Homo sapiens: one gene and its partner. The protein of the gene in region 1 interacts with the protein of each later gene in a pairwise test. Each region holds a gene or a part of one and is shown in the gene's direction. Other genes may lie near its edges.

Region 1 (7,924 bases):
CAAAAAAGTTCATGGTGTTATAGAAAAGTAAACATTTTTCACTTAATGAAACCATGAGCTTTTCATGTGCCTCCCCCCACATAAAGAAACTAAAAGAAAAAGGTAATGGAATTACTGAAAAATGCATCCCCACCTCTAGGAGATATCACTAAATTGGACATCTCTGTCGGCCACATTCCATTCAGAGTGTGACCCTCATCCTTCAAGGTCCTGTTTTCAAATGATACCTTCTCCATAAAACGTTCCCTGATTCTTCACTCTGTAATTAAATTCTTCATTCCACAATTGGTAATTGTTATAACTTATCCACATAAATGAAGAAAGTCAAAAACTCCAGTTTAAAAAAATAACTTTGTAAATCATCCCCCCTCATCTTCCCTACTCTGTTGGTTCTTGTTTTTAGACTGGACTCTCAGGTGCAACAATATTATTGTTACTGGTGGAGAGTACTGACTACAAATCACCCAGGTTCTTGGCATTTTGAACAAAGAATTGGACAAAATTCACAAACAAAGCAACAAAAAAGTGAAGCGACAAAAGCATAGATTTACTGAAACAAAAGTACACTCCACAGAGCGGGAGCGGGCTCAAGCAAGTGGCTCAAGAGCGCTGGTTACAGAATTTTCTGGGGCTTAATTTTTTTATTTTTTTGAGGCGGAGTCTTGTTCTGTCACCCAGGCTGGAGTGCGGTGGCACATTCTTGGCTCACTGCAACCTACACCTCCCAGGTTCAAGCAATTCTCCTGCTTCAGCCTCCCCAATAGCTGGGATTACAGGCCCACACCACACCTGGCTAATTTTTGTAATTTTAGTAGAGATAGGGTTTCACCATGTCGGTTGGCCAGGCTAGTCTGGAACTCCTAACCTTGTGATCCACCCTCCTCAGCCTCCCAAAGTGGTGGGATTACAGGTGTGAGCCATCGTGCAGCATGGGGTTTAAATAGCCTCTAGAGGTTTCCCATTGGTTACTTGGTTACACCCTATGTAAATGAAGGAGTGGCCCGTCACAAGTCTGACTGATCATGGGAGGTGACCAATCAGAGTCTGAAGTGACGGTAGTTACAAAGTTACACATGAAGACTTGGCCTGCAACCAGTCTGAATGGTTGTGGGAGGGGACCAATCAGAGGTACTTTCCATTTTTCATTTGCAGTGCAGTGCAAAGGGAGTAGCCTCTGATCCTTTCGTTACATTCGTGTGAAGAGGTGGGGTTTCCCCTCTGATTCAGTTCTAGGAAGTCAGTGAGAATTGGCCTTAGGTTCCCTGCCTCTAGACCCTATTCTCCTGTCTCATTTTCCCGCTGTGAGACATGATCCCCATAAATCTTTATGGGAGGCAGAGGGACCAATGGTCTTTCTTCTGTAACTGCTTCATGCTGACTTGGGGTGCGGTGCCTACCTATTTGGGATCACAGAACTCTCACTCTGCTCTGTCTAGTGGATACAGGGTAGCTTCTTGATGGCCAGTAGTGGTGTCTTCACCTGAACTGGCTGGAAACCTTGTTGCATGATCATCTGAAGCTTGATGGTCTCTAGGCGAGAGGAAATTAATTTGGTTAATGTATTTAATAAATATGGTCCAAAAACCAAGGCAAGTATAATTAACAACGAGCCAGTCAGAGGAAGGACTCATGAACCCCTAATTAGCATTTTTGAACAGGAGGACCACGACTTGGACAGCTGTTGTCGTATCTTAGAAGCCTGGTCAGCTAATTTCTGGGTGGCATCCCTTACTAATTCTAATTGGTTGACATAAAAACAGCATTCTTCCTCTAGAAAAAGACATAAGCCACCTTTTCCAGCAGTTAGGAGATCCAGTCCCCTTCTATTTTGTAAAGCAACTGCTGCCAAGGAGTCTGTTTGAGTTTGTGTTGTGACGATACTTTGGGCAATGTCATCCAAGCTTTCCACAAAATCCTTGGAAAGTGCTGGTAACAGTATAGGGAAGTTGCAAGCCCGGTAACTCCCGTTCCTGCTCTCACTGTTATTCCTAGCCCAACAAAAAGGCGTTTGAGTTGGATTGCTCATTTGTGTCTGGCGGTTGCAGTTAAAGGTATAATGAGGGATTGGTTGTTGAGAGCTCTCCCTCTCTCTCTCTAAATATATATATATATATACACATATATATATAGTTTGTTTGTTTTGAGACAGTCTCCCTCTGTCACCCAGGCTGGAGCACAGTGGCTCAGTCTTGGCTCACTGCAACCTCTGTCTCCAGGGTTCAAGTGATTCTCCTGTCTCAGTCTCCAGAGTAGCTGGGATTACAGGTGTGCGCCACCATACCCGGCTAATTTTTTGTATTTTTAGTAGAAACAGGGTTTCAGCATGTTGGCCAGGCTGGTCTCGAACTCCTGACCTCAGGTGATCCGCCTGCCTCGGCCTCCCAAAGTGCTGGGATTATAGGCGTGAGAAACTGCGCCCGGCCGGGAGCTATATTGATTTCGGAGGCTAAAAACCAAGTGTACAGGTTCCAGTCCAATTGGCTGGTAAACACAGTAGGAACTGGTGCTGCACAGGGAAAAGGTTCCTTGTTTTTCAAGACAAAAATTGTTTTCCATGGTGAACATGTGGGTTAGCTTGTTGTTTTCACTTTCCCAAGTGGTTAAGTTTCCTACTAAAGTGGCCAAGCGAAAATGTCAACCCAGCTAGTGGGCCCACCTTCACAGTACTTAGACTGTGCATCCTTTAAAGTGCCCTTAACTAGGGATGGTTTCCATGAAAAGCATACAGGTTTTCTAAACGATGCAGTTTGGTTAATTGCATAGCTTACATGATTGTGTGAGGGTTAATTTCTGGGGTGTGGTTGCATTGAAGACTTCAAGTTCCCACGACCTGAACAGAATTTTGGCTTCTTTCAATACAAAGTGGCATCTGGAATTTTAGCTCTGTGTATGTTGATGTTGGGCCCCTAATGGGTTTCTGTGGGAATGCACCCTCAAAAAGGTTGCTCTGATTGGACTGGAGAGGGTTTACTGCTCATCCTGTCATTTTAACCTTTGTCATTTCCATACTTTTGAAGTCTTATAAGTCATCCAGATTCATTAATTCAAAGGGAGTTCCTCCCTGGTAGTTGGAATGATAGGTCATTTTTTTCAAGGACCCAAGATCGGGCTGGGATAGGGATGGCAGTGTATCTGGATGAAGATAGGAGATAAACAAAGCCAACAGTCCTTTGCCAGAGCTGAGCTGGTGGTATTTAACAGTCTTTGCATTAAATTTAAAGTTCTTAATAAATACCCAGAATCTATTAATTGCCAGAGGGGTAAAGTGAAGCTCTGTTGTAAAATAAAGCTGATTCCCTGTATGCGGTGTCCCTGTGTATACTGGGTGTATACTGGGTGTCCATTATGGAACAAAAAAAAAATACTTATTTGCTATTTTGTTCTATAGAATGGGAACTTCAGGGGGTGGATACCTGTGCTGTCAGGAATGCTAGTTATAAAAATGAATTAAAACACTTCATATATTACAAAGGAAGTGATTCCATCTATTTGGACGAAAGCAATTAAACTGCAAAAATATAAAAAATGGCAACTATTATTCAGTCTACAGTAACTATGCAACAAAGACACCAAGGAAAGTTGGTAGGCATTTACGTATCTCACTTAAAACAAGTCTATAAAGTGGTTTATTTTAAGAAGGGTACATTTTAAGAAGGACAAAATCAAAAGCATGGACAAGTGTTGGATGAGCTGATGAGGTTGTGGCAATTTACTTTGTGAATACTGTGAGAGTTTGTCCAACTCGCTGTGCTTAGGTACTAGATGGTGAGGATTTAAAAGGTCAATGAAGTCACAGCAGACCAGCACTCAAACATATTTCTCTTCTATTTCCTACTTTTGAATAAAAATGTCAGAAGTGGGCGGTGGGAAAGGAACAAGCAAAGGAGTAATTATTTGAATAAATTTTTGGCGAAACGTGGGTGTCTGACGGGGAGGCTGTGCGGTGGTGACCAACGCACCCATGCGCTGGGTTTCACAGATGCAGACTGAAGTCCAGGCTCTGCTGCAGATTAACGGGGTGGCCGCCAGCAAGTCAAGTGACTTGCTCTTCTGTGCACTGCATGTACTTGGGTTCCTCTCACAGGTATTCCTGTTTTTCCTCTTTCTTGCTCCAGGTTACACCTCGTGGCGCGGCGCTCTCGGAGAGCCTGTGGAGTGGCCCTGTGTCCCTCCCTGACCCCTGGAGGATTCCGTAAGGTCACAGTCACCGCCTCCATCCCCTACTTGCCATGTCTTCAGGGCTAATGCATAACAATTATCACAATTTACAGCAGCCCCACGCTCTGAAGAGCTTCTGGAGGGGATACTACTCAAGCGGAGGAAGGCAAGACAGGGACCTCCTCCCTCTTCCCGGACCTCTTCTGATAAGGAATATTTGTAGGTGGTTAAGAAAGGCAGCGGGAGGGCGTGAAGGCAAAGACAAGCTTTTTTTCTCGTAGGAACACACATCTTCTGGTCTGGCTGTGTTTCCGGAGGCATTTCCAGAGGACCTAGCGAGGACCAACTTCCGGCTGCGACTTCCGCGTCTTCCGAGTTTCGAGACCTGCTGCTTCCGCCCGGAGTTGTTGTGGGCTCCAGCAGCGAGTAGCCACTTCCGCTAGGAGTCCCTAGCGGCCAGGGCGTGGAAGCGGATTCTGAGGCGGCTTTCTCCTACTGCCCTCCGCTTGCCAACGCGGGACCCGGAGCCCAACGGCAGCGGCGGTCCTTGGGCCTGTGGAGAGGGGTTCTCTGTGGCCGAGTCCTAGGCCTGGTGAACCGCGCGGTGCGGGAGAGGCGCTTGGGCCTCGTCCAGCCCCAGCCCCTGTCTCCCCGCGGCCGGTGCCGGCGGCTGTAGGCCTCGCCGCGCCCACCCAGCCTGGGGCGGGCCCAGCCTCACCGCCCGGCCCGCCCCGCCCCACGGGCCAGCCCCGCGCCGGGTGTTTCCGCTACTTCCCTGCGGCGGGGTAACCGCCTCGCACCTACCGGGCTCGGTTCCCTGGCTCCGGCCGCGGGGGAGCATGGAGTTTGCGGAGCTGATTAAGACCCCGCGGGTGGACAATGTGGTGCTGCACCGGCCTTTCTACCCGGCTGTCGAGGGCACCCTGTGCCTGACGGGCCACCACTTGATCCTGTCCTCCCGGCAGGACAATACGGAGGAGCTGTGGCTCCTCCATTCAAACATCGACGCCATCGACAAGCGGTGAGTGCCCGCCCCACCCCAGCTCCGCAGGGAGCCGGGGGTCCCTTGTGGGCGCCCCGGGAAATACTTCCTGGCGTTTTCCGCGCAGCCTGCCGCCCAGCTAGCCGGCAAGATGAGCCCTCTGTGGCCTAGAATCAGGATTTACCAAGCTGAAACCCGTCCAGATGGAGGACCCGGTTTCCATTAAACCTGGATGGAGTTCTCAGGGTTATCGTGTGGCTGGTACCATCCTGATGATCATTTCTGGTTCGTAACACCATTTGGGTGGATTTTCGGCATTGTCTTTATAAATTTCTTCTTCTTCTTGCCCCATCGTATTCCTTGAATTGGTATTGTCAGTCACCGTTCATGAAGTGATTGGATGTGATTTAGGTAAAGTCTTTACCATTTCTGAGGAAAACTAAACAGATTATAAAGTTATGAGTGTCTACATGCTACAGAACCATTTTTTTAATTTCTGAAAAATGTTCAGTGTATCATATTATTTCTTACCTTCTGGGTCATCAAAATTTAATTCTCACTAAGGGAGATTCTGATGTCTTCTCTTCATCTTTACTCAATTCTGCTTGCTGAAAGAACAGGGTTGGCTCTCAAGGAAAGGCATGGACCAGTTAACCTCTTTTTTCTTTTTGTACTCCAGACTTTATCTTTCCAAGGCAGTGCCTCGAAGTCAAAAAGTTAAACTTTCATCTGCATTCAAAATTCCCATCTCCTTAGTGGCTACTCGCTAGCCAGGAGAGGGCAAACTGATTATCCGTTTTACACAGAAGTATAAATGAATGACGACAACATTTTCTATTGCCTCACAGGATAATTTGGATATTAGGAAGATTCGTACAGAGGATATGCCTTAAAATAATAATCTCTTTCTTTCTTTCTTTTTTTTTTTTTTTTTTTTTTGGAGACGAAATCTCACTGTATTGCCCAGGCTGGAGTGCGGTGGCCAATCTCGGCTCACTGTAACCTCCACCTCCCAGGTTCTAGCGATTCTTCTGTCTCAGCCTCCCGAGTAGCTGGGATTACAGGCACGCGCCACCACACCCGGCTAATTTTTGTATTTTTTAGTAGAGATGGGGTTTCACCATATTGACCAGGCTGGTCTTGAACTCCTGACCTCGCAATCCTCCCGCCTAGGCCTCCCACAGTTCTGGGATTACAGGCGTGAGCCACTGCGCCTGGCCTAAAATAAAAATTTCTAATGGTAGAATTGCAGGCAGTTTGGGTGAAGCCATGGTAGATTGATTGATTGATATGAGCAGGGGGCTCTTATTAGTCTCCTCAAGCCACCTTTTGCTGTATAAAGTCTTCAGTGGGCCCGGCACGGTGGCTCACGCCTGTAATCCCAGCACTTTGGGAGGCCAAGGTGAGCGGATCACCTGAGGTTAGGAGTTTGAGACCAGCCTGACCAACATGATGAAAGCCCGTCTCTACTAAAAATACAAAAAATTAACCGGGCATAGTGGCAGGTGCCTGTAATCCCAGTTACTCAGGAGGCTGAGGCGGAAAAATCGCTTGAACCTTGGAAGCAGAGGTTGCAGTGAGCCGAGATCGGGCCACTGCACTCCTTCCTTTGCAACAAGAGCAAAACTCCATCTCAAAAAAAAAAAAAAAAAAAAAAAAAGTCTTCAGTGGTCTCTCATTGAAAATCTAAACCCCTCAGTCATTCATGGCATTCTGTGTCTCGGCCCTATCCTACTTTCTCACTTTATTTCTTGCCATTTCTTTTAACGAGCCTTTCTTGCACTTGCTTTCATGAACGCTTTTTACCAGCCAGTCCTCACTATTTACTGGTGCTGGTATATGTCCTGTATTCTGTCATCTGTGTATTTTATTGACTTCTTCCTTCTGCTGGAATGCCTTGCCTCTCCCAAGTTTGTTTAACATTTGCCAAATGCCTTTATGTTCTGGACGTTTTGTTAGGCATTTAAGACACCAAGGTAAATAAAATATGTTACAGTTCTTGTCTTTCAGGAGTTCACAGGCAATGAGCCTGTTACCTGTCTATGAGTATTCAGTTTAACCATTTCGACCGCTACCTCCTTCACAAATTCTTCTGTTAATTCCACAACTGGAATTCATTTTTATCTCCTTCGAAACGTCTAACTGTGGCTTGGGCATATAGACGCGTAGGAAACAAAAGAAGGATTGACCGCTGAATGGTCAGATGCCGTTGAATACAACTGAGTAGTTTCTCCATGACCATCAACTACCTTTCCTTTCTTATTTACCTTTTATGGTGGTTACTTTGCGCTCATTTGTTTCCTCCTTTTTACCTTGCATTTACAAGGTGCTGGGCTTTGTAGTACATGAAGAAGAAGCAGATGAGCCATGGACCTTTGAATCTGTTAGGAGAGAATGACGAACTGTACACACATTTATCCTTTTCCTGGGAAGCAGCGTGGTGTAGTGAAAGAGCATAGGGGAGGCATCAGATCAGAGTTTGTTAAATTGCTGCTTTCAAGAAATCTTTACATCCACCTGTTTTCCACGTGCATTGTCTGAGCTGTGCGGCTGCAGTGGTGACTAAGACAAGATGCTTAGGTACTGGCCAGGGAGATGGACAATCAAGCAAGTCCAGAAATAAATATATATATTTATTAGATATATTTATATTTATTATGTTTATTATATATTATATATATTATAATATATATTATATATTATATATTATTTTCTTATATATTTATTATTTATTTATTATATATTTATTATATATTATATATAATACATATTATATAATACATA
Region 2 (8,142 bases), on another chromosome or scaffold:
GGAGTGGAATAAAGCAAATAACTTTTGGCAGAGAAAAGAATACAAGGATACAGTATATACAACGTATACAAATACATGTTTTTATGTATAAAATACAAAGGTAGTTAGATGCTGTATCCAGTCTTCTGCAAGACTATAGGTCAAAATACAACTAACAGCTGGACATGGTAGCTCATGACTGTAATCCTGGCATTTTGGAAGGTCAAGGTGGGCAGATCACATGAGGTCAGGAGTTCAGGACCAGCCTGGCCAACATAGTGAAACCCCATCTCTACTAAAAATACAAAAATTAGCCAGGTGTGGTGGTGCGTGCCTGTAATCTCAGCTACTAGGGAGGCTGAGGCACGAGAATTGCTTGAACCCAGGAGGCAGAGGTTGCAGTGAGCCGAGATCATGCCACTACACTCCAGCCTGGGCAATAGAGCAAGACCCTGTCTTTAAAAAAATAAAAAATAATAAAAAAAAAAGAAACAACCAACAGATATTTATTAGGTGTATACCTGTGCCAGACGTAATGATTATGAATGCCACAAGGTTCTTTGTCCCTAAAGAGTTTTCAGTTTGGTAAGATAGACATGCAAAAAGGAAATGATAAAACCAAGCAGAAGGGGATATGTTCTCAGGGACCTTAATTCAGACTATGTAAATTAGGGAGGAAGCTCCAAAGAGCATTTGTCGTGAAACTGTCAGTGGAAACATAGCAAATAAAATTAGGGATTGCTGGGTGCAGTGGTGTATGCCTGTAGTCACAGCTACTCAAGAGGCTGGGACAGGAGGATCACTTGGGCCCAGGAGTTCCAGACTATAGTACATTATGCTGATTGGGTGTCTGCACTAAGTTCTGCATCAATATAGTGACCTCCCAGGAGTGGGGGACCACCAGCTTGCCTTAGGAAGTGTGAACCACCTCAGGTTGGGAACAGAGCAGGTCAAAACTCCTGTGCTGATCAGCAGTGGGATTGTCCCTGTAAATAGCCACTGTACGCCAGCCTAGGCAACAGCAAGACCTTATCTCTAAAAGAAAACAAAAAAATTTGGGAGTAAGCCAATGTTTCATTTTACTAGGCTAAATTTTTGTTGGGTCTGATTATATTTGAAATCTAGATAAACTTAATTGTCATGATATTAGCATAATTAAAGGTGATGTCTTTCCTTGCAAATTAAAACAGCAAAACAGTCATTCTGTCTTTATGCTTCTGAGTTTGCAATATTTGATAGAGTTCTCCCCATCCCTAGTAGAGGGGCAGGGGTAGATAAACATGAAACCACATCCCTCTTATTTTATTTATTTATTTTTTTGAGATGCAGTCTCTTTCTGTCACTCAGGCTGGAGTGCAGTGGTGTGATTTCGGCTCACTGTAACCTCTGCCTCCCGGGTTCAAGTGATTCTCCTGCCTCAGGCTCCCAAGTAGCTGGGATTACAGGCTCCCACCACCACACCTGGCTAATTTTTGTATTTTTAGTAGAGACGGGGTTTCGCCATGTTCGCCAGGCTGGTCTTGAACTCCTGACCTCAGGTGATCTGTCCATCTCGGCCTCTCAAAGTATTGGGATTACAGGCATGAGCCACTGCTCCTGGACTCTCTGAGGTTATTTTCTTACTCCTGTTAGATCTAAAGATTTATTGTGACGGTCACATTAAGACACTGTTTGGGAAATTCTTTGAACATTGAATAACTGTAACGAATTGTGCTGTATCTGTGGGAACCAGCCTGTTTTGTTCCTGTTATATGCCAGATACACAATATTTGAGGGGGTAAAAGGCTGTCCAGAAGCCTAATTCCCAGATACTAAGGGCTGCTCTGCCCCTGGAAGCAGTGCGGTAGTAGAAAGGGCACAGGGTATGGAGACAAAGGTACCTGAGCGCCATCCCACTCTGCTGCTGTGTAGCTTGGTGTTCCTGTGTGAATCCATTAGTCATTGTAAGCCTCGTTTCAAAATAGAACCTCATCTGTCAATGGGGTGGCAATACCATCCTGATGGGGTTGTGAGGAACCAGTATGAGAACATACAGTGTACCTAATGAGTGTTTTTCTACTTGAAGTGGCTGAATTGTCTTTCAGATGATGAGCTAGTTGTGAACCCCAAAGTGTTCCCTCACATCAAGCTTGGAGACATTGTAGAGATTGCACACCCCAACGATGAATACAGGTGAGTGTCTCATAGGATCCATGGAACTGGGCAATTCACTGTTTCCAAATGATGTCCAAGGCAGATAGCTCTCTTTGCCTTTCAAAATGCTCATGCTGTGATGGCTCAATCCTGTAATTCCAGCACTTTGGGAGGCTGAGGTGGGTAGGTCATTTGAGCCCGGGAGTTCGAGACCAGCCTGGGCAACATAGAGGGACCCTGTCTTAAAAAAAAATGATCATGCCTTCTAGGATTTGATCAACAAATAATTTTTCAAAAGTGGTCCATTCCTTCGTTTTTTTTTTTTTGAGATGGAGTCTAGCTCTGTCACCCAGGCTAGAGTGCAGTTGTGTAATCTCAGCTCACTGCAACCTCTGCCTCCCAGCCCCAAGTGATTGTCCTGCCTCAGCCTCCTGAGTAGCTGAGATTACAGGCTCAGCCTCCCGAGTAGCTGAGATTACAGGCATGCGCCATCACGCCCAGCTAATTTTGCATTTTTGGTAGAGACAGGGTTTCACCATGTTGCCCAGGCTGGTCTTGAACTCCTGACCTCAGGTAATCCACTGGCCTTGGCCTCCCAATGTGCTGGGATTACAGGTATGAGGCACCGCACCTGGCCTAATTTTTGTGTTTTTTAGTAGAGATGGGGTTTCACCATATTGTCCAGGCTTGTCTCAAGTCATCCATCCTGCTAGGCCTCCCAAAGTGCTGAGATTACAGGCATGAGCCACCATACCGAGCCGTTTTTTTTGTTTTTTTTGTTTTTTTTTGTTTTTTTTGAGATGAAATCTCACTCTGTCACCCAGGCTGAAGTGCAGTGGTGGGATCTTGGCTCACTGCAATCTCTGTCTTCCGGGTTCAAGCCATTCTCCTGCCTCAGCCTCCTGAGTAGCTGGGATTACAGGCGCGTGCCACCATGCTTGGCTAATTTTTGTATTTTTAGTAGAGACGGGGTTTCACCATGTTGGTCAGGCTGGTTTCGAACTCCTGACCTCGTGATCCGCCTGCCTTGGCCTCTTAAAGTGCTAGGATTACAGGCATGAGCTACCTTGCCGCGCCCAGCCTTTTTTTTTTTTTTTTTTTTTTAAGAGACAGAGTCTCGCTCTGTCACCCAGGCTGGAGTGCAGTGGTGCCACCTCGGCTCACTGCAACCTCTGCCTCCTGGGTTCAAGTGACTCTTCTGCCTCAGCCTGTCGAGTAGCTGGAACTACAGGTGTGGGCCACCACACCTGGCTAATTTTTGTATTTTTAATAGAGACAGGGTTTCGTCATGTTGGCCAGGCTGGTCTCGAACTCCTGACCTCAGGTGATCCACCTGCCTTGGCCTCCCAAAGTGTTGGGATTATAGGCATGAGCCACCGAGCCCAGCCTCTTTCTGGTTTTAAAGCTGAGATGACAACTGAAAGGTTCTGTAGCATTTGTCCATTTCCTTTAGTGCGTATGGAGTTTCTTTGTTTCTTTTTTTTTTTTTGTGAGACGGAGTCTTGCTCTGTCGCCCAGGCTGGAGTGCAGTGGCACAATCTTGGCTCACTGCAAGCTCCACCTCCCGGGTTCACGCCATTCTCCTGCCTCAGCCTCCCAAGTAGCTGGGACTACAGGCGCCCACCACTATGCCCGGCTAATTTTTTTGTATTTTTAGGAGAGACGGGGTTTCACTGTGTTAGCCAGGATGGTCTCGATCTCCTGACCTCATGATCCGCCCGTCTCGGCCTCCCAAAGTGCTGGGATTACAGGCATGAGCCACCACACCCGGCCTAATTTTTTCTATTTTTTAGTAGAGAAGGGGTTTCACCGTGTTAGCCAGGATGGTCTCGATCTCCTGACCTCGTGGTCCACCTGCCTCGGCCTCCCAAAGTGCTGGGATTACAGGCGTGAGCCACCGCACCTGGCCGAGTTTCTTTGTTTCTGAGGGAGCTTTCTCCCGTTGTTGTGCTGTAAGTCACAGAATGGCCAGAGTGACCTATTTGCCTTTTGTCGGGGATGAAGGTTGCTAGGGAGTTACTGTTCACGGTATCCCAACTCTCTTGTTGCTTTCTTTTTCAGCCCTCTGCTTTTGCAGGTCAAGTCTCTTAAGGAAGATTTACAGAAGGGTAAGAATTATATCACTCTTCTTAGAATTTTTTATTTACTGCCTCAGAAACTGTAAGAAATCTCTCTTCATAATTTCAAGGGATGAGGGCAAGTAATTCTCTTCTTTTTTAAACAAATTTTAATTTAACTTTCAATTCAGGCAGTACATGGGAATGTTTGTTACATGGGTATATTGTGTACTGGTGGGGATTGGGCTTCTATTGTATCCATTACACAGTGAACCTTGTATCTGACAGAACAGATACAGATAAAGAATGTTGTATCTGTGTCTTAACATTGTTTTTTTTTTTTTTTCTGAGACAGTGTCTTGTTCTGTCACCCAGGTTGGAGTGCAGTGGCGCGATCTCGGCTCACTGCAAGCTCCGCCTCCTGGGTTCACACCATTCTCCTCCCTCAGCCTCCCAAGTAGCTGGGACTACAGGCACCTGCCACCACGCCTGGCTAATTTTTTGTATTTTTAGTAGACACGAGGTTTCACCGTGTTAGCCAGGATGGTCTCAATCTCCTGACTTCATGATCCTCCTGCCTTGGCCCCCCAAAGTGCTGGGATTACAGGCGTGAGCCACCACACCCAGCCTGAACATTGTATTTTTCAACCTTCATTCTCTTCCCTGTCCTTGTTTTTGGAGTCCCAAGTGTCTATTATTTCCATCCCACTTATAGGTAAGAACATGCAGTATTTGGTTTTCTGTTTGTGAGTTAGTTCACTTAGGATAATGGTGGCCTCCAACTCCATCCATGTTGCTGCAGTGGACATGATTCCATTTTTTTATGACTGTAGTTCTCTTCTTATCAAACTATGTTGCCACTAAAAAAAAAATTGTAAAGTGACGCTTATAGTCCTAGCTACTCTGGAGGCTGAGGTGGAAGGATCATTGGGTCCCAAGAGTTTGAGGTTTCAATGAGCTATAACGGTGCCACCGCAGTCTAGCCTGGTCAACAGAGCAAGACCCTATCTCAAAAAAAAAAAAAAAAAAAAATAGGCCAGGCACGGTGGCTTATGCCTGTAATCCTGGGAGTTTGGGCGGCTGAGGCAGGCGGATTGCCTGAGCTCAGGAGTTTGCGACCAGCCTGGGCAAAACGGTGAAACCCTGTCTCTACTAAAATACAAAATATTAGCCGGGTGTGGTGGCATGCACCTATAATCCTAGCTACCCTGGAGGCCGAGGTAGGAGAATTACTTGAACCCGGGAGGCGGAGGTTGCAGTGAGCCGAGGTCACGCCACTGCACTCCAGCCTGGGCGACAGAGCGAGACTCCGGCTCAAAAAAAAAAAAAAAAAAAAAATACACAACCTGCCTGTTGCCCAGGTTGGTCTTGAACTCCTGGCCTCAAGTGGAGTTCCTGACACCTTGACCTCCCAAAGTGCTAAGATTGCAGGTGTGATCCACCACATCTGTCCCATTTTTTCACAAACTATTTGTTAAATGCCTACTCTGGGTGAGTAGGGATTGGGGAGGAAGAAATATATATTGATGATCGCCCACCACATTGTGCAAGGTACTATCCTGGGAGCTTTGTGTAATCTAGCATTATCTTCCCAACAACTCTTGAGTGAGTGAGGAAGTTTATTATCTGCCGGACTATACAGTCTAGGCGTAGCCAGAAGCAGTGATTCCTGCTTACTTATTCTGGATTCAAATCCTTTCTTTTTCCCTCTAATGGCTATGCCATGCTGTTCAAGGAACCAAAATGTTAATTGAAAGTAAATAAGATACTCTTTTAAATAGTTCTTAAGAGAAAAAAACAAAATTCTGGGTTGCTCTAAAGGGCTTTGATGGCTGGGTGCAGTGGCTGACGCCTGTAATCCCAACACTTTGGGAGGCTGAAGTAGGTGGATCACCTGAGGTCAGGAGTTTGAGACCAGCCTGACCAACATGGTAAAACCCCGTCTCTACTAAAAATATAAAATTAGCCAGGCATTGTGGCGCATGCCTGTAATCTCAGCTACTCGGGAAGCTGAGGCAGGAGAATTGCTTGAATCTGGGAGGCAGAAGTTGTGGTGAGCTGAGATCACGCCATTGCACTCCAGCCTGGGCAACAAGAACAAAACTCTGTCTCTAAATAAATAAATAAATAAAATAAAGGGCTTTGATGTCACCCACTCTTTCTTTTTTTTTAAAGAGATGGCGTCTCACTCTGTTGCCCAGGCTGGAGTCTGGAGTGCAGTCTCACAATCTTGGCTGACTGCAACCTGCGCCTCCTGGGTTCAAGTGATTCTCCTGCCTCAGCCTCCCAGGTAGTTAGGACTACAGGCGTGCACCACCATGCCTGGCTAATTTTTATATTTATATTTTTATTTTTTTGAGATGGAGTCTCACTCTGTCACCCAGGCTGGAACGCAATGACATGGTCTCAGCTCACTGCAACCTCCGCCTCCTGGATTCAAGGGATTCTCCTGCCTCAGCCTCCTCAGTAGCTGGGATTACAGGTGCACGCCACCACACCTGGCTAATTTTTGTATTTTTAGTGGAGACAGGGTTTCACTATGTTGTCCAGGCTAGTCTCGAACTGCTGACCTCGTGATCCGCCCTCCTCGGCCTCCCAAAGTGCTGGGATTACAGACATGAGCCACCATGCCCGGCCTAATTTTTATATATTTAGTAGAGATGGGGTTTCACCATGTTGGCCAGGCTGGTCTCAAATTCCTCACCCCAGGTGATCTGCCTGCCTCAACCTCCCAAAGTCCTGGGATTACAGGCGTGAGCCACTGCACCATTGCCCCTGCCTTTTTTTTTTTTCTTTTTCCCTTTCAGACAGGGCCTCTCTCTGTTGTCCAGACTGGAGTGCAGTGGTGCAGTCACGGCTCACTGCAGCCTCAACCTCCCTGGGTGCAAATGATTCTCCATCTCCCACCTCCGCCTCCCGAGTAGCTAAGACCCCAGACGCCCAGCCCACAGGATCATGCCTGGCTAATTTTTTTTTTTTTAATTTTTGCTCAGGCTGGTCTTGAACTCCTGGGCCCAAGCAGTCCTCATGCCTTGGCCTCCTAAAGTGCTAGGATTACAGGCATGAGTCACCATGCCTGGCTATCCACTCATATTTAACAATTCAATATTTCAATTTGAGGAGAAAACATTCTATAAAACCTGGCTACTCTGGTTACGCTGCCTATGGGTTATCCCTGCTCTGCAAGGAGCAGTAAAAAAAAAATTTAAAGTTTTCATTTTTATTGTTATGTTGTGTGGTGTTATGTTTTTTATGTTATGTTATGTTATGTTTGTTATGTTATGTTATGTTATTTTGAGATGGAGTATCCCTCTGTCGCCCAGGCTGGAGTGCAGTGGTGTGATTTTGGCTCACTGCAACTTCCACCTCCTAGGTTCAAGCAATTCTCCTGCCTCTGCCTCCTGAGTAGCTGGGACTACAGGTGCGCACCACGACACCTGGCTAAATTTTTTTTGTATTTTTAGTAGAGGCGGGGTTTCACCATGTTGGTCAGGCTGGTCTTGAACTCCTGACCTCATGATCTGCTGAGCCACCACATGCAGCCAATTTAAAGATTTTAAAAGAATTCTATAAAACCTTAATCCTAAGAATGGCCTTCATACCTTCCCCTTATCTCCTGCCCCATGTTACGTTTCTTACCAGACTTAAGGGCTCATTGAAAAATTTGTTTCTTCTTTACCACTGATAACTTCATTCCAAAGAGAAGATCTCCTTTCTCTTCTGGAGTTTTACAGGTCTTTGAACTTTCTTATCTTCCTTCTTATTTAATTTATTTATTTATTGAGACAGAGTCTCATTCTGTCACCCAGGTTGGAGTGCAGTGGTACGATCTCAGCTCGCTACAACCTCTGTCTCTGGGGTTCAAGCGATTTGTATGCCTCAGCCTCCCAAGTAGCTTGGATTACAGGCGCCCACCATCATGCCTGGCTAATTTTTGTGTTTTTAGTAGAGACAGGGTTTCACCATGTTGGCC

The links. The genes of interacting proteins can lie anywhere in the genome.
Region 2: the proteins of MTMR9 (region 1) and DEPDC5 interact in binary tests that used the Homo sapiens proteins (3 or more experiments, as listed by UniProt).

What each region holds. Positions count from the first base shown.
Region 1 is NC_000008.11:11,279,892-11,287,815, forward strand, and holds the start of MTMR9 (myotubularin-related protein 9), read left to right. Parts: upstream 1-4,924; 5' UTR 4,925-4,997; coding exon 4,998-5,179; intron 5,180-7,924. UniProt on the Homo sapiens protein: Acts as an adapter for myotubularin-related phosphatases. Increases lipid phosphatase MTMR6 catalytic activity, specifically towards phosphatidylinositol 3,5-bisphosphate and MTMR6 binding affinity for phosphorylated phosphatidylinositols.
Region 2 is NC_000022.11:31,756,483-31,764,624, forward strand, and holds part of DEPDC5 (GATOR1 complex protein DEPDC5), read left to right. Parts: intron 1-2,063; coding exon 2,064-2,151; intron 2,152-4,173; coding exon 4,174-4,220; intron 4,221-8,142. UniProt on the Homo sapiens protein: As a component of the GATOR1 complex functions as an inhibitor of the amino acid-sensing branch of the mTORC1 pathway.